Linked DNA regions of Homo sapiens. The gene in region 4 interacts genetically with the main gene of each other region. Each region holds a gene or a part of one and is shown on either strand. Other genes may lie near its edges.

The links.
Region 1: of ATG10 (region 4) and FBL, changing one suppresses a phenotype caused by changing the other (phenotypic suppression), as found in Homo sapiens cells (one large-scale study listed by BioGRID).
Region 2: of ATG10 (region 4) and XPO1, changing one suppresses a phenotype caused by changing the other (phenotypic suppression), as found in Homo sapiens cells (one large-scale study listed by BioGRID).
Region 3: of ATG10 (region 4) and TSR2, changing one suppresses a phenotype caused by changing the other (phenotypic suppression), as found in Homo sapiens cells (one large-scale study listed by BioGRID).
Region 5: of ATG10 (region 4) and CSE1L, changing one enhances a phenotype caused by changing the other (phenotypic enhancement), as found in Homo sapiens cells (one large-scale study listed by BioGRID).
Region 6: of ATG10 (region 4) and RAB1A, changing one enhances a phenotype caused by changing the other (phenotypic enhancement), as found in Homo sapiens cells (one large-scale study listed by BioGRID).
Region 7: of ATG10 (region 4) and DDX10, changing one suppresses a phenotype caused by changing the other (phenotypic suppression), as found in Homo sapiens cells (one large-scale study listed by BioGRID).

What each region holds. Positions count from the first base shown.
Region 1 is NC_000019.10:39,839,880-39,843,379, forward strand, and holds part of FBL (rRNA 2'-O-methyltransferase fibrillarin), read right to left. Parts: intron 909-3,500; coding exon 738-908; intron 637-737; coding exon 535-636; intron 449-534; coding exon 354-448; intron 1-353.
Region 2 is NC_000002.12:61,528,357-61,531,856, forward strand, and holds part of XPO1 (exportin-1), read right to left. Parts: intron 1-3,500. UniProt on the Homo sapiens protein: Mediates the nuclear export of cellular proteins (cargos) bearing a leucine-rich nuclear export signal (NES) and of RNAs.
Region 3 is NC_000023.11:54,443,404-54,445,967, reverse strand, and holds part of TSR2 (pre-rRNA-processing protein TSR2 homolog), read right to left. Parts: coding exon 2,477-2,564; intron 1,961-2,476; coding exon 1,784-1,960; intron 1,553-1,783; coding exon 1,418-1,552; 3' UTR 1-1,417. UniProt on the Homo sapiens protein: May be involved in 20S pre-rRNA processing.
Region 4 is NC_000005.10:82,052,023-82,055,522, reverse strand, and holds part of ATG10 (ubiquitin-like-conjugating enzyme ATG10), read right to left. Parts: intron 292-3,500; exon of another isoform or gene 189-291; intron 1-188. UniProt on the Homo sapiens protein: E2-like enzyme involved in autophagy. Acts as an E2-like enzyme that catalyzes the conjugation of ATG12 to ATG5. ATG12 conjugation to ATG5 is required for autophagy. Likely serves as an ATG5-recognition molecule. Not involved in ATG12 conjugation to ATG3.
Region 5 is NC_000020.11:49,073,812-49,077,311, reverse strand, and holds part of CSE1L (exportin-2), read right to left. Parts: intron 2,528-3,500; coding exon 2,462-2,527; intron 1,995-2,461; coding exon 1,792-1,994; intron 333-1,791; coding exon 248-332; intron 1-247. UniProt on the Homo sapiens protein: Export receptor for importin-alpha. Mediates importin-alpha re-export from the nucleus to the cytoplasm after import substrates (cargos) have been released into the nucleoplasm.
Region 6 is NC_000002.12:65,102,607-65,106,106, reverse strand, and holds part of RAB1A (ras-related protein Rab-1A), read left to right. Parts: intron 1-1,300; coding exon 1,301-1,373; intron 1,374-3,500. UniProt on the Homo sapiens protein: The small GTPases Rab are key regulators of intracellular membrane trafficking, from the formation of transport vesicles to their fusion with membranes.
Region 7 is NC_000011.10:108,678,569-108,682,068, forward strand, and holds part of DDX10 (probable ATP-dependent RNA helicase DDX10), read left to right. Parts: intron 1-802; coding exon 803-992; intron 993-3,500. UniProt on the Homo sapiens protein: Putative ATP-dependent RNA helicase that plays various role in innate immunity or inflammation. Plays a role in the enhancement of AIM2-induced inflammasome activation by interacting with AIM2 and stabilizing its protein level.

The DNA.
Region 1 (3,500 bases), on a different chromosome or scaffold from region 4:
CTGGAGAAGCAGATGATAAGGACGCAGCCTCCCACAGAGCTGGGAGTGGGAACAGCAAGGCCAGGGTGGCTGGAGGACACTTGGTCAGAGAGTTAGTGAAGGAGACAAAGCCAGGGGGCAGGGAGGGGGAACTGGAATGCACAGGGTCTTGGAGGCCTGAGTGAAGACTCAGGAGTCTAACTGGAAGGCCGTGGGGAGTCACAGAAGGCGGATGAGGGAGCAGACAGTGTGGTTTACATATTATGACAATCCTCCAGCTGTCACGTGCAGGACACATGGTGAGGGCAGACACAGACTACTGGCTACACCCTCAGCTGCGACCCTGGTGGCTTGGACAGGGGCCCAGTTCTCACCGAAATCGAGACTCTCTTCTCTCCATAAACTGATTCCCCAGGGACCAGGTTCTTGGTGACCAGTGCATCTTCCTTTCCTCGACAAATGAAGACACCTGGGTGAGGGGATCAGAGCAGGGGTGAGGACCCCCAGCCTCTCCCTGCCCCGAAGCTCAGCCGGCTCCCTGCCTTCCTCACTCACCCTCATGCCGATGCGGCTCCACCATCACATTCTTCCCCGACTGGTTTCCTCTTTTTCCTCCCCGACCACGACCCCGGTTGCCACCAGAATGGAAGCCTCCACCTATAAAGGAGAGGTACAACAGGAGAGAAAGATCCTGAATCTCCGCCCTCCCCACTCCCCACCTCAGGAAGGCCTCCTCTGTAACCCCTAGCCAATCTTACCACCTCTTCCTCCTCCTCCACCGCCGCCGCCGCCTCCACCTCCTCCTCGTCCACGACCTCTAAAGCCTCCGCCTCGACCTCGGCCCCCGCCAAAGCCCCCTCGGCCTCCACGACCACCACGGTCACCAAAGCCCCCTCGGCCGCCAAAGCCACCCCCACGGGGACTGAATCCTGTGGGGGAAACAAAACAGGAGTCAGGGCAATGAAGCTTAAAAGGTTAAACCACCTTGTACCCAGCAATACCTCTCAGGTGAGAAACCTGAAATACATGTGCCCGTGTACAGCAGGACACATTTCCAAGAATGTCCACAGCAAAAGAAAAGTGAAGACTAACCCAAATGTCCATCAATAGAATGGGCAAATAAAATAGAAGACATTCACAATCAAGATCATGAAAATGACCTTCAGTTATACACAACAGACTAATAAATGTTAAAATCATAATAATTTTTTTTGCTTAGTGCTTTTTTTTTGAGACAGGGTCTTGCTGTGCCGCCCAGGTTGGAGAGCAATGGCACAATCACAGCTCACCGCAGCCTCGAACTCCTGGGCTCAAGCAATTCTCCTGCCTCGGTCTCTGAAGTAGCTAGATTACAGGTGTGTGCCACTACTCCCATAGTGTAGAGATGGGGGTCTCACTATGTTGCCCAGGCTAGTCTCCAGCTCCTGGCTCAAGTGATCCTCCTGCCTTGGCCTCCTGAAGTGCTGGGATTACAGGTGTCAGGCACCACACCCAGCCACAATCATACTGCCCAAGAAAAGGAGCAAGGGAATGAGAAATGTAAAACTCATGATATTGGTGAATGGGAAGGAGATATTAATATGGGGTTGGGATAGGGGAGGAGTACATGAATAGATGTAGGTTACTGTTAATATCCTGGTTTCCTTGGTTGCATAGCAGATTCACAGAATTCATTCCATGTCAATATTAATTACTGTGAAGAGTGAGCCCTGCATACGAGCACATGCTGTGACAACAGGGCCCCCTAGACTCTGCAAACGTCTTCATACTCTCCCACTCCTGACCTTGGAGCTGGAAGAAAAGTGTCAACCCCAGCCCCAAAACAGAGGGGAATACAGGATGATGTCAGCCCTAACTCATCTCCCTGCTTCCAAGCTTAAAGAAGTCCCTCTCAGCTCAGGGGAAAAACAAGAAAAAGCAGAACAAACTGTCATTTAAGGATAGGCTGCACTTTACAAGTAGTTTGCGACTTGTCAGTAAGATCGAAATGTTTAAGAAATAACAGACTCAGACAGGCTTTATTCTTACCAGTTCAGGACAACAAACACCATTAGCACAAAACAACGTTTAAAACAGAACTCTGGTGCTAACAGATTCAATATTTTCTCTGATTTGGTTTCAAAAACTCAGAAGTACTAAATCACACAAGTTAAAAAAAATAGTTGGAAAACTAGTGGTTTAAAATTATCTCACATTCTCACATGATGTAATCTATTCAATCATAAGCTTGCTTTTTTTTTTTTTTGAGACGGAGTCTCACTCTGTCACCCAGGCTGGAGTGCAGTGACACGATCTCGGCTCACTGCAAGCTCCACCTCCCAGGTTCACGCCTTTCTCCTGCCTCAGCCTCCCCAGTAGCTGGGACTACAGGCGCCCACCACCATGCCCGGCTAATTTTTTTGTATTTTTAGTAGAGAAGGGGTTTCACCGTGTTAGCCAGGATGGTCTCAATCTCCTGACCTCTTGATCCGCCCGCCTCAGCCTCCCAAAGTGCTGGGATTACAGGCGTGAGCCAGCGCGCCCAGCCTTGCTCATGTTTTTTGTAAAGATACATTATGATCTTGTCCTACGAACCCTTCATGCACCTTAATGGTATTAAAGATAAAAAATGTGTCTTTTAACAGCCATTCCTAATTTAATCTTTAAAAATGAACGGTTTCATTTTCAAAACTCCCAAACAACCAAAAGTTGTTTACTTTTAATCTTCTACTCCCTCTACAGTCCACTTTTCACACAGCAGCTAATACATGCTATTTTTAAAACAGCAAGTAAGATCTCATCATGCCCTTGCCCAAATCCCTCCAATGGTTTTCCACCACATCCAAAATGAAATAAAAAGTCCTTTCCCTGGCTTACAAAGCCTGAAATCAAAGCCTAAAATCTTTAGGCTTTAAATTCTGATTTCATTGTTCTGGGCGCAAGGTCTTCCCCTAAAGCTCTCCAGGTGACTCCAAGGTGCAGCCCACATTGAGTATCATCATCCTAAGGATCTGGCCTGTGCTGACTTCCCTGACTTCATTCTCTTTATGCTGGGCCCCATGCTCTTCCCCACCAAGCATACACAGTCCAGCTTCTAAATCTTTACCACGTGCTGTTCCCACTGCCTGGCTCCTGCAGACATGTGCATGGCTCACTCGCTCCTTCACTGCATTCTGGTCTCTGATAAAATGTTAGTTCCCCAGAAGGGCCTACTTTGGCCACAGTACCCTTACCCTGCTTTATTTCCCTTCAAATCAATTATCACACATGGCATTTTTAATATTATTACCACCTGCCTCCCCCACTAAGATCAAGCTCCAAATGGGCAGGGATTTTTAACTGTTTTGGTCACCACCGCATCCCCAAAACCCTGCACAACATCTGGCACAAAGTATGGGCTCAATAAATGTTAAATGAGCACTGAGCTGATGACTCTTAAACCCTGGGCCCTGCCTCAAGGAGAAAGCACCCTCTATTTGTTCAGAAAGCACACAATCCATCAGATGGTGACCAGGGAAGTGCCGGTCACTCCCCTCAAGTAT
Region 2 (3,500 bases), on a different chromosome or scaffold from region 4:
GGGCACGGTGGCTTACGCCTGTAATCCTGGCACTATGGGAGGCCGAGGTGAGCAGATCACAAGGTCAGGAGTTCAAGACCATCCTGACCAATATGGCGAAACCCCATCTCTACTAAAAATACAAAAACTAGCCGGGAATGGTGGCGTGCGCCTATAGTCCCAGCTACTCGGGAGGCTGAGGCAGGAGAATCGCTTGAATCCAGGAGCGGAGGTTGCAGTGAGCCAAGATTCCCCAAGAATCAGGAAGATTGCCCCAGTGCACTCCAACCTGGGTTGACTGCGTGAGACTCCCTCTCAAAAAAAAAAAAAAAATCTTTCCTGCAATTAGTTTTTTTCATTTGACAGTTTTTAAGATCCAGCCATGTCGACATTTTATTTATATATATATATATATATATATATATATATATATATATATATATATAGTTTTTTCATTTCAATAAGTTTTTCATACATTAATATTTTTACCAACAGCTTTTAATTCTATTGACAAAAAGCAATGGCTTAATCTTTTTCACTTTTGTATCTTTAAAGGTTGTTTTATAACTCAATTAGATCCTTCCTATTTCTTTTACCTATTTCTATTAAAAGTTGTAAGCAAAAAGTTTGGACCAGGTGTGGTGGCTCATGTCTGTAATCCCAGGAGTTCAAGACCAGCCTGGGCAACAAAGAAAAATTAATAATGAGCCAGGTGTGGTGGGACACGCACTTATGGTCCCAGCTACTCAGGAGGCTGAGGTGGGAAGATTGAGCCTGGGAAGTCAAGGCTGCAGTGAGCTGTGATCAAGCCATTGTGCTCCAGCCTGTGTGACAGAGCAAGAAAAAAGTTTGATGACTTTAAAATCTGTCAGTTATCTTTCTCTTATACTTTACTTTATCATGGGTTTAATTCTATGGTTATAAACAATAAAGCATCAAAAACAGGGTAGGAAGCACTCTCACAACCATTTCTGACAAAGATACCTTATAATCTTTAGCTTGGCTTTTATTCTAGTCTTTTTTAAAACAATCGTATGCTCGGGTGGGCACCGTGGCTCACGCCTGTAATCCCAACACTTTGGGTGGCCAAGGTGGGTGGATCACGAGGTCAGAAGTTCAAGACCAGCCTGGCCAACATGGTGAAACCCCGTCTCTACTAAAAATTCAAAAATTAGCTGGGCATGGTGGGGCGTACTTGTAATCCCAGTTACTCAGGAGGCTGAGGCAGGAGAATTGCTTGAACCAGGACCCGGAAGGCGGAGGTTGCAGTGATTTGAGATCACACCACTGCACTCCAGCCTGGGCTACAGAGTGAGACTCTGTCTCATTACAAAAAAAAAAAAAAAGAAAGAAATTATATGCTTATCCTGGCTTTGATGCTTTATTTTAATCATGACCTTTTCCTCAGGTAGGAAATACAATACCACATTCATGACTATCCCATACATCAATCAGGAAAACACACTGCTACACACTCAATAACTTATATGGTTGTTCTCTACCCAGAAACCCACCAGAACCACTGTGGTTGCCTGAAAAGATCAGACGCCTGCTTCCATTGTGAGTCTGTGGTTACAAGAGTTAATGTGTATACTTTAAAATACAATCATACACATTTCTATTTGATTTCATTAAAGGACTGATGGGCATAATGTGTCATATGAGAAATGACAGAAGGCCGAAAGAATAATGATGTGGCTTATCTAGGGCCAAAGCACATTTTAGCAGTGTTTTGGTCTTCTCCCTGAGAATATCTAGCTAGATAACCTTATCTAACTAGAGGAAAAGTTGTATCAAAGATCCTCACACAGTAAAAGTTACTTGGTCAAGTTACCATTTTGTCAGATGCTTTGAAGTGATAAGCATTCTACACAGAATCAAATACTTCCCACACTATCACCACTCACATCAATCGCTACATAAATAATATTCTTTCCTGTTAGTTGTAATTTTACTCTCTGATGCTACTTCTAGTATTTGCATTCTGATTTATTCTAATCCCACCATTCTTACATAATGTTCTTTATAAACTTAAAACCCCAGCAGGGGTTTAAAAAAAAAAGACACAAAAGCAAACTAAAGAGAGAAAACCTAGCATCTCCCTTGTACTACTAACTGAATGGTGAAAGCATTTTAGTTGCTAAGCAATAGAGTTCAAGATCTTTAACAGAACACAATATTGGAGAAAACATCCAACTCTTCCCGCATCTTTTTTCTAGCTGTCTACTTGGCTAAAAATAGAAAAATGCTGATAACAGAGGGTAGAGGGTAGTCCTAATGTTACACTGCTAAATATCCTACTATACTAACCATGTATGCAGAAGTTCTGTCTACAGATTAAAAGTCACCCTTGTAAATAATTTCTTCCCCTCCCCCAAGTTACACATTCCTTTAAAAAAAAAAAAACCTACCTACAGCTTTTTTTCCCAGTTGACTTTAAAAGCTTAATTAGCATAATAAATTTTTCTTGTCATTAGTGCATATTTTATGAGTAGCAAAAAAAAAATTTTTTTAATTTTAAGCAATGAGTATCACATATGCTAAATCATTTTCATTATACTGCTAAATGTACCCTTTAAGCTGAGTGCCTTCTACCTATCAAGCACTGTAATAGGTGCTTTTAAACCTCATAACTAACCCTCCAATCTCTTGTAGGACAGGTCATATTTGTACATGGGACTTAAGCAATGACTAGAGAGAGCTTCCAAGAATCAAATTAAGACGTCTAACACTAAAAATCATGTTTTCCACTATAGCAGCTCGCTGCTACTACTACTCCTTTTCCTTTGAAATAAGACCCCCAAGGAGGTGGTAAACGAAAAGTAGACTGAACTAACGACATAGGACTTTTAGAGACCAAAAGGACTCCTTAACCAGCTTTAAGCTCTAAATCTTGTTTCTTCATTTATAATACAAAATAAGTTTGCTAGTTATTTCTACGCAACTGATTTTGTCACATGATCTATTAACTACTGCAGACAAAATCCTTTTACTTTGGGAAAGTTAACCTATTGTCCTTACAAACAAAAAAATTTAGAAACACTTTTCTTAATCTACTTTTTATTAACAAGTCAATTTTAAAACAAACCATTAAATTTCTTAATACTATGAAACATTATTAAAAGCAGTATTGCTGTAATATATTCTCAATTACAAAAATTGCCACTAATTCTGTTACAAGCCATGAAGAACACTGCTCTATGTTGGTTTATTTATCATACCTTTAGATGTAGTGAACTAGTTTAGTGTGAAGATTAAACAGTATTAGTAGCTGAATCTATGCGGAAAAAATTAAATGCCCTTTTTCCCAATGGCTACAGACCTGTGCTTCCAATATTACATTCAGAGTTGAACCCAACCTTACTTTCATAGCTTCCTCCAAAAGCAGCTGCTTTCTATGCATCCATGCTAGAAGAAATGAAGCTTAAAGCTTCATGTTGAATGTATAGCATGAGTAACAACTAAATGACAGGGATAATAAATACGGATGGTTAATTTTTTCAAGAATGCTTTAGGAGATA
Region 3 (2,564 bases), on a different chromosome or scaffold from region 4:
GGTTTTTTAATTCATCTTTTCACAAAACGTGGGCTTTTAAAAAATATATTCCTACAGTGATGTCAATTTTTATTAATCCCTGTCCCCAGGGAGGGTGGGAGCCGTTGCCAGTCCTACCTGAATTAGGTCGTTTTTCTCCCTCATCCCTCAATACCCTACCACAGATCCTGCCTCCACCCAGTTCCCCACAAAGCACCAGAGGTAGGAGACCTGGATTCAAGTGCCAGCTCTGCCACTGACCCTGGGGCCCCGACCCAGCCCTGCCTCCTCAGCCAGTGTCTTCACACGTACAACTCCACGTGGGGTGGCAACTAGACCTCTCCTGCCTCTCCCATGGCTTACAGCTTCTACCCGGCCCCAAGGCTACCCAGTATTTTATCGTCCAGACCCATGGCAGGGCCAGCGGGCAGGACAGGGAAACAGGGGGGAGGACAATGGATACTCAGTTTTTTGTGTTTTTTTGTGTGTTTTTTTTTTTTTAAGAAAAATACAGTTTATTTCAGGCTTACAGTAACTTTCATAGCACTGCTGTGCTCCGTTCGTTCATCTGTTTGGTTGTCCAAAGTACCAGGCTGCTAGGGTGGGCCCAGAAACTGCTCCCTTGTAAACTCTGAAGCTGAGCTCCCAGAAGGCTGATTCTAAGGCTACTACTCACAGGTCAAGCCACAGATTAAGCAGTAAGGTATTATTTATTAAGATCTTAAGCCTCACCCCTGAACTCAAATGGGATGGGATAAGGAGTAAGGAAAGAGGTTAGAGGAGACAGAAAACAAAGCCCAGCTCTTCCAAGCTCACCACCTAGCCAAGGTCTTCGAATTCCTGAGGGAACCCAGGACTGGAGGCTGGGCTGAAGGAAGGCAGCATTCCTGGGAGGTTCCAAGTTCTGGGCAGGGGTACAGAGCTGTTGCGTGTGTGTGGGGTGGGGTAAGGGAGAGGCTCCAGAGCTACTTTCATTCACATTTTCAACTATTCTCTCTTCCACTTGCATGTTCATCTCACCATTCCTGACCCAGCCAGCCCCCTATCACTGAGTACTGCTGCTGCTGCTGATCCTCTCCTCCCCAAATCCACCTGCCCACTGTCCACCGGCATCTAGCTCCTCCTCCAGCCACACCCACACTCACTCATCCCCTTCCTCACAATGACCGCACCCAAAAGACACTGTACTGGGGAACCCGGCTTCGTCACTCGGATGTTAACTAAAGGCCCAGGGGAATATGCTGGAAAAGGTCCCCCCACCCCCAAGACCAAGGACCCTAGGTTTTCCTTGCCCTGGAGGGAGCCAGACAGAGGAACAGGGGAGAGGGTGGAGATGGGGTAACCAGTCCACAGGTCTGCAATCCTCAAAAAAAAAACCCCTACAGACAACTCTTAGAACAGCAAATAAGGGCCCAAAGCCATTTCCAATCATCCCCACTCATTTTTTTCTCCGGACAATGGTCCAGCCATCTTCCACTATATCCTCTTCCTTAATAGTCTGAGCGTCTGGATCAGAGGGTTCAGGCTGGGGGCAGACCCCATCTGTAGCAGCCCCATCATTCGTAGCTGTGACCTGGAGGGGAGATTTAAAAGAGAGCTGAATACACTGACCACTGGAGACCCAGGCTCTGCTCCAGCTTTTCCAGGATTGGCTGTGTAACTTTAGGAAAGTTCCCTGCCCTCTCTGGATAATACTACTACCACCAACCACCACCATCCCCTTATCACTTCCCTGTGAATCTAGCTGCTCTTCCAGAAAATTGAAAACATCTGTATCCCCCAACCCAGGGGGCACCCACTTCACCTCCATCTCTTCCACACTGTCCACATCATCTTCATCCTCATCAGTCTCTCTAGCTGTCTTAAGTGCAGTGGCTGTGACCTTGCATTTTCTCTGAGTGATGCAGGAGGCCATCTCCCTCAGAGCAGCCCCATCACCCCTCTGGAAGTGGTGGAACATGGTCTGCAGTTGCTGGCTCACCTACCAAGAAAATATTCAACCAGTTTGGATTTTCCAGATATCTACTATACAAACAGCACGTGTTTGAAGCAACAGTGGGGAGTAGGTTGGATTTTTCCAGAAGAGAACAGAGCTCTTTCCTCCCCAAGGAATTAACCAATGAAGCAACCACATATGAAGGGCTCAAATGAAGGCCTAAAGCATCAAAAGAGAGCCTAACTAGCAGGGAATCCTCTAGAACTGGGCTTTGAAAGAAATAAGATGTAAAAGGGAAGGTAATCTTATTGGGGAGCAATGGTAACCAGAGCGGGGGTGAAAATGGACCTGGACTGGCCTGACCTGCCCTTGGGATGGGGCTGAGGAACAGGCCTGGATGGGAATGATGTATAGAAATAAAGAAAAGGCAGGGTTTGGAAAGGCTACACTTTTTCCTCTAGGCAACAGAGTCATAGTCAAGAGTCTTGGCCCAAAACAGACAGCTGGGGAGAAGAAAGACTACAGGTAGGGAGACTGCAGTTGTGCCCGTGATAAGCTCACCTGGGGCAGACTCCCGTCTTCCACAACTGTATCAAACTCGTTGGTCAACAGCTCTCCAAGGAAGTCTTCCACCTCATCTAGCTCCAAG
Region 4 (3,500 bases):
ATAAAATTTAGTAAAATTCTAATAACAATGCAAAATACATCTCCTTTGACATTAAAAGAGGTGAGTCAAAAATTCGTGTGCACCTATGTTATAAAATCTAAATAAATTATCTGGTCTCTTTCCCAATTAGTTAAGATAAAGAGATATGTCACTTTCAATAATACTTATAATTTGAGGAATTTACTTACATTTTAGGTAATTTCTAATACCATTTTTTTATTATCGATACGGAAGTACGCTGGGTTTTTTGCTCTATATTTGGTAGTGGTGATTTTTTTTCAGTATCAATCTTCTCAGTCAAGATTAGCCTTGAAAAATTAAATATAGAGTTTTTTGGATTTTGATTTCCCTTTAAAGACTTCCACAGAACTAGATGTTTCTTCTACTTTGTTTTAATTTAAGGCAGAAAAATATGTTTTGTGCTTCACTGTTGAAGGATGCTTTTTTAGAGACAAGCAAACTCAAAAGCAGGAGAACCACCACTCTTGTCAGCCCTGCAGTCCACCCAGCCCAGGAAAAAACGATGTCAACTCAAATTCCCCCTTGGCAATGAAGTTTTCCTGACCATTCCAATTAACACTCCTCTCTAGCTTCCCTGCATTCTTTTTGTACTTATCATAGCTTACACTTGAACATTTAACTCTTCTTTAATTTTTTAACATTTGTTAGTTTTATTTCTCCCACTAGATCATAAGCTCAGGGCCTAGGCCTCCATCCTCTAAGGGATGACAAGGTCTTTACAGGATCCAGATTCCATCCCACATAACAACCTGATCCAGAAAGAGTCTGAAAACATCCTGGACAAGCATGAGAGGATTTAAAAACAAAGGGAACCTTCAAGTTTATCCAATTCAAGCCTCTCATTTTAGAGATAAGAGGGTGAAGGACTAAAGCACTTCTAAGAAACTTGTCTTACACTAATTAGTTGGAGGCAGAGCAGGAAGTGGAAAGCGGATCTCTTGACCTGAGTATTCTTTGTAGTACACTAAGCAAATTCTGCAAGAGAGCAGGACCATGGCTTATTGACTCTCGTGGACTGGTGTGGGCCAGTGCTTTGCACTTCAAGTAACAAACTCAAGCCACTCAAGTGTGGTCTGGGGACCAGCCACAGCATAAGCTGCGAGCTCATTAAGACAGACAGGCAGAATCTCAAGCCTCACCCCAGACCTCCTGATTCTGCATTTAAAACATAATCCCCAGGTGATATGTATGCACATTTTGGAAGCACTGAGGCATGTACTGCAATCCCTGACTCAAAGAGACAGCAAACTGACTACATTAACAATGGTTCTCAATCCAAGCTGCACATTAGAACCACCTGTGGAGTTTTCAAACTGTTGCTGGTGTCTCACCTCAGACCAATTAAGTCAGAATCTACCTAGCAGATTCCAGCACAGCAGCCAGAGTTGAGAACCACTGCACTCAATTCCTTGGAGACCCTCTTTTGAACTCAATGAACAGAGTCAATCAGGTAATCTGCAGCTACCTCAGGAGAGAAGTCCACAAACAACTCAAGATCTTCATGAACACCATAGCTCATCTGGAGTTCTCCAAATGCTAAAATCACCTCTGTTAATGCTCTCTTCTTGGAGCTTTGACCATGCTGAGACTGCCTTTGAAGTGGTCTTTACTACTGCCCGAAAAACTAATTTCTGGCAACTTGGCCAGTCTTGACCTGGCCCTCTGAAACTGCCAGTAGTCTTGTAACTTAAAATTGCTCCAAGTCCAACTACACTTCAGCTATTAGGTCTCCTTGCTGTCCATTCACCACAAAGCATGATGCTTCACTCTGTCACTGTAGAAGAATAATTAATAAGAAATGTCCAGCTGTTATAACCCAAACAACTTTCATTATAAAGAGAATACTTCCTCACAGCCAAAACTCTTCCAGTTATCTAAATAGAATGCCCTTCACCTAAGACCAAAATAAGAAATATTTAAATGAGAAAAAAACCCCAAATATGCTAGATGAAAATATAGGAGAACACATATTTTTTAATATGATAAAAACCCAGAAGTCATAAAAGACTGGTAAATTCTACGGCATGCAACGAATTCTTAACACCATAAAGTCAAAAGACATATCAAAATGTGAAAAAGCATTTGTAGCTCATATCATAGAAAAGAACTAATTTTTTCAATATAAAATAGCTTTAATTTCCTCAAAATATAAATAGTTCCACCAAATCAACAGGAAGGGGTCCAATAGCCCAATAAGAAAATGAGCAAAGGATACACAGATAGTTTACTAAAGAGGAAATACATGTAGATAAAAATATGTTCAATGTTAGCCATAAGAAAAATGCAAATTAAAAACTGTGATAACATTTTTTACCTATCAGATTGGCAAAGATCAAAAAGTATGAAAGGGAATGTATAGACAAAGACATGGATAAAACAAGCAGGCACTCTCATACATTGCTGGGGCAGGGGAGTTAAAATTAGCATAAGATCCCTGAAGAGCAGGTTGGCAAAAACTATCAAAATTTAAAATGCACACACCTTGGATCCAGAAATGTTACTTCTAATAATTTACCTTATGGATATAGTCACATATGTAGTAAATAAAATTCATACAAATGATTATTAACATATTATTTTAATAGTATAAGGTTGGAAACAACCTAAATTTCCATCAGTGAAGATTGGCTAAATAAATTATTTTATGTCCAAATAATGGGATAGTATGTAACCACAAAAATAATGAATGAGTTCTGTAAATATTGAGTAATGACCAAGGCTGACCATTAAGTTATTTTTTAAAGCGCAGAACAGTATGAATATATGCATGCTACCATATGTTTAAATGTAACTGTACAGGCTATGTGTACACTGAATATATCCGGAAAGATACCCAAGACCATGGTATCACTGGCAACCTCTAAAGGTTTGAGTAAGGAAAGTAGAAGGGTTAGAAAGGAGACTTAACTTTTTAATGTAAAACCTCTTTTGTGCCTATAAATACATGGCACTTCATTTTAAACAAATAATTAATTGCCCTTTGCACATATGCCTCCAGGCCACCACATTGCCAGAGTAGATTCCAATCTTAAACTTCTAAGGAGAAAATGTCCTATAGGTCTTATAGAATCCAAGAGAGACAAGCAAGTTTTCTAGTGTAGTGCCGATTGCATTTTGGATGGAGATCTAAGGATTTCCTGATAGAACACGTTTGGGTCTGTTTTAGTACAAGCTGTCATAGGGCTATGCCACCCAGCAAGCTATGTTATGCCTGCTGGAATCCAGCTAACAAAATAATTATAGGGCTTTTGTTGCTGAGTTTAACAAGATCTTCTCTAGACACATCTAAAAGAAAATGGGTGGTTATCTAAGGGTCTAAGCTCTACTTCAGAATAAGGCATTTTATATACGACTTCAACTCAAGTTAACTGCCCAGAATGATCAACTGCAGGAAGGGCTTGACAAGTCCATAAAGGAGGAAGACAACTGAAGTTTCTAGGTCAATGCCAGCACTGATCAAACAAGGCCTTCAAGGTCAG
Region 5 (3,500 bases), on a different chromosome or scaffold from region 4:
GGTACGTGCCTGTAGTCCCAGCTGCTTGGGAAGCTGAGGCAGGAGAATCGCTTGAACCCAGGAGGCAGGAGTTGCAGTGAGCAGAGACTGTGCCACTGCACTCCAGCCTGGGTAACAGAGTAAGACACCATCTCAAAAGAAAAAAAAAAAAAAAAAAAGAACAAAAGGGAACAAGGATAGGAAGCTGTTTTTTGAATTCAGGTATAGTGTGGCAAGCTGTAAAAAAAGCAAGAATTTCACAACTCACCATTAGCTGATTTTAAATCAGGGAGGATGTGATTCACAAAGAACTCAGTTAGGTTTACAAGTTCATTTGCTTGTGTAATTCCATGCTGAAAAGCAAATTCATAACATAGTAAAATAACAAAATACCTGTATATATCTATCACATTAGAAATTCAGGCAATTTTAGAAAACCATGTTAAAATGGAGATGAACACTTCAAAATACAAATTGCTTATGTATAAAATGAGACTGTACTGGCTGTGTACAGGAGCTCACGGCTGTAATCCCAGCACTTTGGGAGGCCGAGGCGGGTAGATCACTTGAAGTCAGGAGTTCAAGACTAGCCTGGCCAACATGGCAAAACCCCGTCTCTACTAAAAACACAAAAAATTAGCCAGGTGTAGTTGCATGCACCTGTAATTCTAGCTACTCGGGAGGCTGAGGCATGAGAATTGCTTGAACCCGGGAGGCAGAGGTTGCAGTAATCTGAGATGTTGCCATTGCATTCCAGCCTGGATGACAGAGCAAGACAACGTCTCAAAAAAAAAAAAAAAAAAAAAAAAAAAGAGAGAGAGGGACACTTCAAAACATGAACTGCTTAGGCTAGGCATGGTGGCTCATGCTTGTAATCCCAGCACTTTGGGAGGCCAAGGCAGGTGGATCACCTGAGGTCAGGAGTTCAAGAACAGCCTGACCAACATGGAGAAACCCCATCTCTACTACAAATACAAAATTAGCCAGGGTGGTGGCGCATGCCTGTAATCCCAGCTACTCGGGAGGCTGAGGCAGGAGAATCACTTGAACCCGGCAAACGGAGGTTGCGGTGAGCCAAGATCGTGCCATTGCACTCCAGCCTGGGCAACAAGAGCGAAACTCCGTCTCAAAACAAAACAAAACAAAACAACAACAACAAAACACAACCTGCTTATGTATAAAATATAAAATAAGACTATACTGTCTAGGCACGGTGACTCACACCTGTATCCCAGCACTCTGGGAGGCTGAGGTGTGAGGATCACACGAGGTCAGGAATTTGAGACCATCCTGACCAATATGGTGAAACCTTGTCTCTACTAAAAATACAAAAATTAGCCAGGTGTGGTAGTGCACACTTGTAATCCCAGTTACTTGGGACGCTGAGGCAGGAGAGTCGCTCGAACTCGGGAGGTGGAGGTTGCAGTGAGCTGAGATCACGCCATTGCACTCCAGCCTGGTGACAAAGTGAGACTCCATCTCAAAAATATAAAAATGTAAAATAAGACTATACTAATAGACAATAAAGAAACTTTCCTCAATTAAAGAACAGCTAAGTTTAAGTTAAGCATATTTGATACAGCGGGTCTCAGCTAAGGTAACAAGTGTGGCCATCTATCAATTTTCTGGTCTATAAGAAACTTAAGTGCTCAATACATCAACATAAAGCCATCTTCAGAGATTATATAAATCTTAATCAGAATAGGTTATCTGGCAGAGTAAGCTCTATTATCAGAGACGTTATTTCTTTTTGACTTGTGTGGGTGTCACTGATGTCTGTTTTAGAAACAAAACCACATTAAAAATATTTACCTTCTGTGTTTGGGCTTTTGATGCCAAAGATGTCACTAGGTAGATGGCTGCATCTTTGTGTTTCCAGTTGACAGATGGATTTTTTGCGTATTCCTGCAGCATGGAATTAACATAACCAGAGAAGATTCCTGTCACAGGTCCCTCAAAAAACTTGCATAATCCTCGTACCAGATCACAAGCAGCCCTGCGTCTAGTATCAATATCTATGAAATGAAAAGAAAATATATTATGGGGAAAAAAAACAACCACCAACAAGCTGATCCAATTTATAAGAAAACAAATTGCCTGGAATAATTTGGCTACGATTGTAAAACGGAAAAAAAAGAACGAAAAACAAAGGGCCACCCAATAGCTATCAGCAACACAAACAATGAAAAAAACATTCCCGCCCCCAAGAAATACAAAATCAAAATGAAACTAAAGAGGTCACAGAATCACAGAATTTTGATAAATACTATGTAAGAACAGACAAATGATTCAACTTTTGATATTTTCATTCAGGTCATATAAGAGCTTTTTAAGACAAGTTGAAGAAAGACAACAGTTCTCAATGAAAGCCCGCTGAAAAAACACTCTTATTCTCAATCCCACTTCTCCCATTTACTAGAAAGAGAACCACCTTAAAACTGGCTTGCTAAGAGACTAGTAACTAAAAAACCAAGATACACACCAGATCCTTCCAAATCTCTCCTTATGTACTCCTCAGAATTATCTTCAAATGCTTCTTCATCAGCAGCTACAAGGAGAGATGATATTTCAGATAACACTCCAAAAGACGTCACTGTACTTTACAGCTGAGAATGCAGAAGAGTATGTAAAACTGCCTTGTTCTACAGCAAAGAATTCGTTCCCATCAGATGACTACTTCATATACTCTTAATCATTATCTAGAGCAGCAAATGCTACCCTGAAAGGTGAGGTATTAGGTAATTCACACAACTATGAGATAGGCTCACTTGTTCTAATGTGACAGTTTCCCCAGAATTGGATTATACCTGCAACTGTCAAAAATGTTAGGGATCAGTATCAGAATGCTAACTTTTAATTTCACCAAATAAGAACATTAAAATACCAACAACCTAATTTTAATCACTATTATTTCATTAAAGTCATTTCAACAACAAATAAGTAGAGTGGACAATGTCAGAAATGGCCGGCATGGTGGCTCACGCGTGTAACCTAGCACTTTGGGAGGCTGAAATGGGAGGATCGCTTGAGCCCAGGAGTTTGAGACCAGCCTGGTCAACACAGCGAGATCTCATCTCTATTTTTATCATATAAATTAAAAAAAAAAAAAAGTCTACACACACACACACACACACACACACACACACACACACACACTGCAGTTGTATGATCATGTCTCACTGCAGCCTCCACCTCCTGAGCTCAAGCAAAACTCCCACCTAAGCTGCTTGAGTACCTGGGACCACAGGCCCATGCCACCATACCCAACTAATTTATTTATTGTAGAGATAAGGTTTTGCCATTTTGGCCAGGCTGGTCTTTAACTCCTGGGCTCAAGTGTTCCTCCCACCTCAGCCTCCCAAAGTGTTGGGATTAAAGGTATGGGCCACCACACCCAGCCAGAAGATTTATCCTTTAAACATATTTTTATGAAAACACAACAGGAAATAAAATCTCACGCTATATTGTCCTTAATTTCCTTATTTTGTTCCAGATGTAATTTGAAAACCACTGATCTAATA
Region 6 (3,500 bases), on a different chromosome or scaffold from region 4:
GTTAGGCCTGGCAATGTTAGAGATACATAAAGAGAGCCTTGTTTTATCACTGGGTGCGGTGGCTCACACCTGTAATTCCAGCACTTTGGGAGGCTGAGGCGGGCAGATCATGAGGTCAGGAGATCGAGACCATCCTGGCCAACACGGTGAAACCCGTGTCTACTAAAAATACAAAAATTAGCTGGGCGTGGTGGCGCATGCCTATAATCCCAGCTACTCGGGAGGCTGAGGCAGGAGAATCACTTGAACCAGGGAGTTGGAGGTTGCAGTGAGCCGAGATCGCGCCACTGCACTCCAGCCTGGGTGACAGAGCAAGACTCCGTCTCAAAAAAAAAAAGCTTGGTTTTCAATGGTTCTGAAAAATGCTTTAATACAAGTGTAGAGTGTTAGTCAAGTTTTGCACTTGGATAAACAGCCTGTGAATTTATCACATTTCTAGTTTATAATATGGGCTTTCAGAAGTTATATGAACATTGTTTTGACGGGAGAATTCAAGCTGGATGCTAGAGAAGGATCGTGAGAACCCCTTCATTGGAGGAGTGCTATGAAATTATTTGATCTTGGAATTTTTTTTTTTTTTTTTTTTTTTTTTTTTGAGACAGAGTTTCGTTCTTATTGCCCAGGCTGGAGCTGGAATGCAGTGGCACGATCTCGGCTCACTGCAACCTCTGCCTCCTGGGTTCAAGCAATTCTTCTGCCTCAGCCTACCAGGTAGCTGGGATTACAGGCATGCGCAACCATGCCCAGCTAATTTTTGTATTTTTAATGGAGACGGGGTTTCACCATGTTGGTCAGGCTGGTCTTGAACTCCTGACCTCAAGTGAACTGCCTGCCTCAGCCTCCCAAAGTGTTGGGATTACAGGTGTGAGCCACTGCGCCTGGCCTGATCTTAGAATTTGAAGGAGAGACTAATATTTCATGGGCAAAAACAATGAAAAGTTACCTTTCTGTATTCTAATACTATAGAGGAGTGGGATTTATTTAGAATGTTTTAAGTATCTTGGGCAGTCCAAGAGTGCGTATCACTTATTTTTCTTTTCCTTCTTTCTTTTTAAGTGGAAGTTCACTGATGTTAGAGATCATAGGTGGCATTGCCTACTTTTTACATAATTTTATCATGTTTAGTGATCTGTCAGAAGGGCTGTGGCTGTTTGCAGTTTTGGCTTAAGCCATGCATGGGCTTTATAGGAGATGTAGTCTTCACAGTGAGTTGTTATTTGTAGCTGTGTTTTTGTTTTTGTATAGCTTATAGCAATGCAGTGTGCTTTTTATTAACATCATTTTCTTTTTCTTTTTGCAGTGATTATTTATTCAAGTTACTTCTGATTGGCGACTCAGGGGTTGGAAAGTCTTGCCTTCTTCTTAGGTTTGCAGTAAGTTGAAATTGAAATGTCTTTACAATTAATGGTACAATTAATGCTATGTATGTTTTCTAGGTAGATAAAATTAAACAGTTTTATTCAGAATAAGTTAATTCTTCCAGAATTTATATATTTAAAGACTCCAAATATACATCCCCAGTGGTATCTTGGACTGTTAAATAGAAAAATATTGTTGCTCTTAAAAGAAATTCAGTGAAGTATGGTTATAAAGTCAGAATGTCTAATACTTTTGGTCAGAGTCAAACAGCAGTTCCAATATAGGCAGCAAGTTAAAGGGGTAGTTGGTGGCCTGTGTTGAAAGCGACTTGATGAAAATAAATCTTTAAATTAAACTTTAGTAGAATAAGAAGAAAAAGCAGAGCCAGGTGACGCAGTGGATCATGCCTGCAGTCTCAGCTACTCAGGGTGCTGAGGGTGGAAGGATCACTTGAGTCTAGGAGTTTTGAGACCAACCTGGACAACATAGCATGACTCTGTCTCTGAAAAAAAAAGTTAATAAAAGAAAAAGTAGGGTCTTGGACAAACTTCGTTGGCCAATGGCATAGTTCTAAATGCTGAAGCTGACAGATAAAGGACTTTTGACTTAACAGAATCCACAGTGTCCTTCATAGTCTTTATCAACTACCTTTAAATTTAGCATGTTTCCTGGCCAGGTGCGGTGGCTCACGCCTGTAATCCCAGCACTTTGGGAGGCCGAGACGGGCGGATCACAAGGTCAAGAGATCGAGACCATCCTGGCTAACACGGTGAAACCCCGTCTCTACTAAAAATACAAAAAATTAGCTGGGTGTGGTGCCACACGCCTGTAGTCCCAGCTACTCGGGAGGCTGAGGCAGGAGAATCGCTTGAACCCAGGAGGCGGAGGTTGCAGTGAGCTGAGATGGTGCCACTGCACTCCAGCCTGGCAACAGAGCAAGACTGTCTCAAAAAAAAAAGAAAAAAAATAAAAAAACAAATTAGCATGTTTCCCTTCTAGAGATCATTGTTTCTCAGAGCATGGACCAAAGACTCCTGGGGGTTACCAAGACCCTCTCAGGTAGCCCATGAGGTCAAAATATCCTAATAATACTAAGATGTTAGTATTTGTAAGGAAATATTTACTTGGTAATAATACTAATATAAAAGATGTTTGCGTTTTTCAGTGATGACATTGGCTCTGGTACAAAAGCATGTGGGTAAAATTGCTGCTGGCTTGGTACACATCAAGGCAGCGCTAAGCTCCAAATTGTACTCATGGTGATGGCATTCTTTACCTCTGTGCCCTCACAGGAACAAAAACAAGCCGTGCCATTTTTATTGAAGATTGTCCTTGACAAAACAGTTAAAATGATTAATTTTTGAAAAATGTTGATCCATGAGTATTCCTTTAAAAATATTTGTGAAGAAATGGGAAGTTCACATAAAACAATGTTTTTTTTTTTTTTTGAGACAGATTCTGGCTGTGTTGCCAAGGCTAGAGTGCAGTGGCGTCTGGCTCCCAGGCTCAAGCTGTTCTCCCACTTCAGCCTCCCAAGTGGCTGGGACCTCCCAAGTGGATGCGCCATCATGCCTGGCTGATTTTTGTATTTTTTTGTAGTGACAAGGTCTCACTGTGTTGCACAGGCTGCTCTCAAACTTCTGAGCTCAAGCGATGCATGTGCCTCAGCCTCCCAAAGTGCTGGAGAAAGCACTTTTTACTGCATACTGGCTAGTGTGTTGGTTATTTTGGAGAAAAGAAAAGCATTTGTAGTTTTTTGAGTTGTAAGCTGAGCTAACTGCTTTATTTTTTTCTGTGGAACACCATTTCTTTTTTTTTTTTTGAGATGGAATATTGCTTTGTTGCCCAGGCTGGAGTGCAGTGGCACAATCTCGGCTCACTGCAACCTCCGCTTCTCGGGTTCAAGCAATTCTTCTGCCGTAGCCTCCCAAGTAGCTGGGATTATAGGCACCTGCCACCAAGCCCAGCTAGTTTTTGTATTTTTAGTAGAGATGGGGTTTCACCATGTTGGCCAGGCTGGTCTCGAACTCCTGACTTCGTGATCCGCTTGTCTCAGCCTCCCAAAGTGCTGGGATTACAGGCGTGAACTACTGCACCTGGACATTTTTTTTTTTTTTTTTAACTTGAAAGAACAGCTAACA
Region 7 (3,500 bases), on a different chromosome or scaffold from region 4:
CATTTTGGCATTTGGGCTCTAAACCCAGAAAGTAAAAGTAGACTTAAAAAAATCAGAAGAATGTATGTACGCTTATATGTGAAATTAGGCACGTTAGTATTAGACCATGCCAAGGTTTTTAACACCTGCTTCTAATAACTTGAAAGGTCAAATTGGCATTTTTTTAAATGAACTTTTTCTTTTTTGCTTGGGAATACTACCTGATGTGTATTTTTAAATCAACTTTATCTTTGAACATTTTTGATTTGTAGGAAAGTTGCAGTGGAGAGTTCCTGCATTATCCTTCAGCTGGTTTCCCCTAATTTTTTTTTTTTTTTTTTTTTTTTTTATACAGAGTTTCGCTCTGTTGCTAGGCTGGAGTACGGTGGCATGATCTCGGCTCATGGGTTCAAGTGATTCTCCTGCCTCAGCCTCCCGATAGCTGGGACTACAGGTGTGCACCACCACGCCCAGCTAATTTTTGTATTTTTAGTAGAGGCGGGGTTTCACAATGTTGGCCAGGATGGTCTTGACCTCTTGACCTTGTGATCTGCCCACCTTGGCCTCCCAAAGTGCTGGGATTACAGGCCTGAGCCACTGTGCCCAGCCTTCCCCTGGTGTTAATGTCTTACATGACATGGTACTTTTATCAAAACTAAGGTTAACATTGCTACATCATATAAATTCCAGACTTTATTCAGGTTTTACCAGTTTTTCCGCTAATGTTCTTTTTCTGTTTTAGGATCCAATCCAGGATACCCATTGCATTTAGCCTAATGTATATTTTACATATGATAGTTCAACTTGCATTTTCCTTTTTCAGTTCTTGATGAAGCAGATAGAATCTTGGATATGGGCTTTGCTGATACCATGAATGCTGTTATTGAAAATCTCCCCAAGAAACGTCAGACTTTACTTTTCTCAGCAACACAAACTAAATCTGTAAAGGACCTTGCACGCTTGAGTTTGAAAAACCCTGAGTATGTCTGGGTTCATGAAAAAGCAAAATATAGGTATGTACTCTTTGAGTCAATCAAGATAAATGTTTTTTACTTTTTTAGTTTAGGGATTTGGTATTTTAAATATCTGTTTTCTGGGAATTAAGACATTCTATGAGTTATTGGTTATGCAAAGCATAGTAAATATACCAGTTAAAATTACCCAAATTCTGCATATATCTTTAAATGTCAGGGTACTTGAATGTAGCATTTCCCAAAATGTGGTCTGGGAGGGGAACAAATGTTTTTCCATAGATGTTAAGAGGTATTTTACCATTTGCCAACACTACCTCTTAATAAACGAAGGGAGAAGGGATGAAATAGCAAATGGTGAGTCAAAGTGAAACAGTTTTATTTCTATTTCTCACAACCTTTAATATTTTCAGGGACATTGTGATTGTTGAAAGCAGTGGGAGGGAGGTGGATGTAGCTTGCTACATTTACCAAATTTTTTGGGTACGGAATCATCCTTTTTAGCAGGATTATGCAGTACTAATGTGTTATGGAACACATTTTATGAAGTGCATTAATATTTAGCAAAATACCTTTCAGTCTAAAATTCTAGCAACTATTGTTTTGTCTTGGTCTCATTAAAAACTAGAGCTTAAAGTATATGTGTTACAGTAAAAGTATGTATGTTTGTGATATGCAAGTAGTTGGGGAAATTTTTATTTATCTCTTTTTTTCGAGACAGGGTCTTGCTCTGTCACCCAGGCTGGAGTGCAGTTGTGTGAATATAGCTCACTACAGCCTTCAACTTCTGGGCTCAAACAATCCTCCTGCTTCAGCTTCCTGAGTAGCTGGGACAACCAGGGCATACCACCATGCGTGGCTAATTTTAAAATTTTTTGTAGAGTTGAAGACTTACTACATTGCCCAGGCTGGTTTCAAATTCCTGAGATCAAGCAATCCTCCCACTTTGGCCTCCCAAAGTGTTGAGATTACACTCAGGCATGAGCCACTGTGCCCAGCTGGGATATGTTTTAAGTTGTATTTTCATATGACAATTAGAAGCATATATATTTGGTATGAATCACTGCAGACTTCCAGGAGAAATGTTTTCCAGTAAATATAAAGTTGGATTTTTTGTTGAAGATAGCAATGTAAATTCAACTCTTCTATTATTTATATCTTAAAATTTTTATTTCTTCTTGCTCTGAAATGTTAGCCTAAAAAGAAATAGATTTGGAAAATGAATTGTGTTATCTGGAAATTCCTTAAATAGAGAAAATATGAGTATTCAGGCCCATCTTGACCTTGTATAATGTATGTCTAGGATTTAAAAAGCCTGAGACGAAGAGGCCAGATTCTTTGCTTCTGGGTGATCTTGGGGAATCTGAGTACTGGTATCTTTGACTTTCAAGAACTTGGGAATGGAATAGTAAGATATGTGAGGTATAGTTTTTTTCCCTTGGCTTACTTTCGAGTGGACATTGATCTCTTAAAGAGTTGAGATAGCTATGAAAATTTTTGTGACAATTAACAATTAACTTGAAAATGTAAAGACTGCTTGTCTAGGATTTTTCACTTTTCTCTTTTTTCTGTTTGCCTCCAGCCTATTTTTAATATTCATCAGACAGATTTTTTTAATCATTAGATGTCTCTAAGACCTTTCATAATTTATGCAAGTTAATTTGTACGTATTATTTCCTATCCCCAATTTCTGTAGGTAAGAGTTGGTTATTTTCTGTAAATTACAAAGTTTTAGAAAAAAACTACAAAGACTTTGATATTATTTCACAAATGATTTTTGAAACCCGGTCCCATCACTTATAAAAGTGTGGTGGACAAAATTTTCAGAAAAAAATTTTGGAAGGTAGACATGTATTGACATAATTTACAAAACCTCAGGTTATATGATAATGGCTGCAGTATTCTAATATTCCAAATTTATAGGAAACATAAAAAAGCAGATGCTCTTAGGAATTTCATCTAATGTCAATGTTAGCTTTTCCACTTTAGTAGCTTATCAATGTGGTTCATACACCAGGAGAGATAATAATCAAGAATATTTTAAGGTGTTAGAGAGTATCTACTCTCAAATTGTGAAGGACACAACAACTAAAGAAAAATTAGATCTTTCTGAAGTTGTAAGTCAGAGCATACTTAGAAAAAGTATACTAGTGTTTTCATTATGTGGTTATATATAGACAACTGGTATTTCTAATGATTTTATTTTTGAGAGAATATGCCTTTGGGCCATAGCAATTTGCTGTTTTTCAGTGACAAGTTGAATTCTATGGTGGATTATGAAAAATTTCAAATTTGAGATATGTCATGAGCTTATGTTATTAGGTATATACAAATTTAGAATTGCATTGTCAATTTGAAACATTAATCATTATGAAATGCTTCTTTTTTGCATGTATGTGCTTATTTTCTGTGGACAGTCTGTCTTTTTTGGTTTGGTTTTTTTGCCTTTTTCTTATTGGCTCGGAGGAGCCCTTTAGATAAATTAATTATTTATTTGTAATACGAGTAGCAAAACACTTCCCTACTCCCGGTGTTTTTTCATTTTATAAA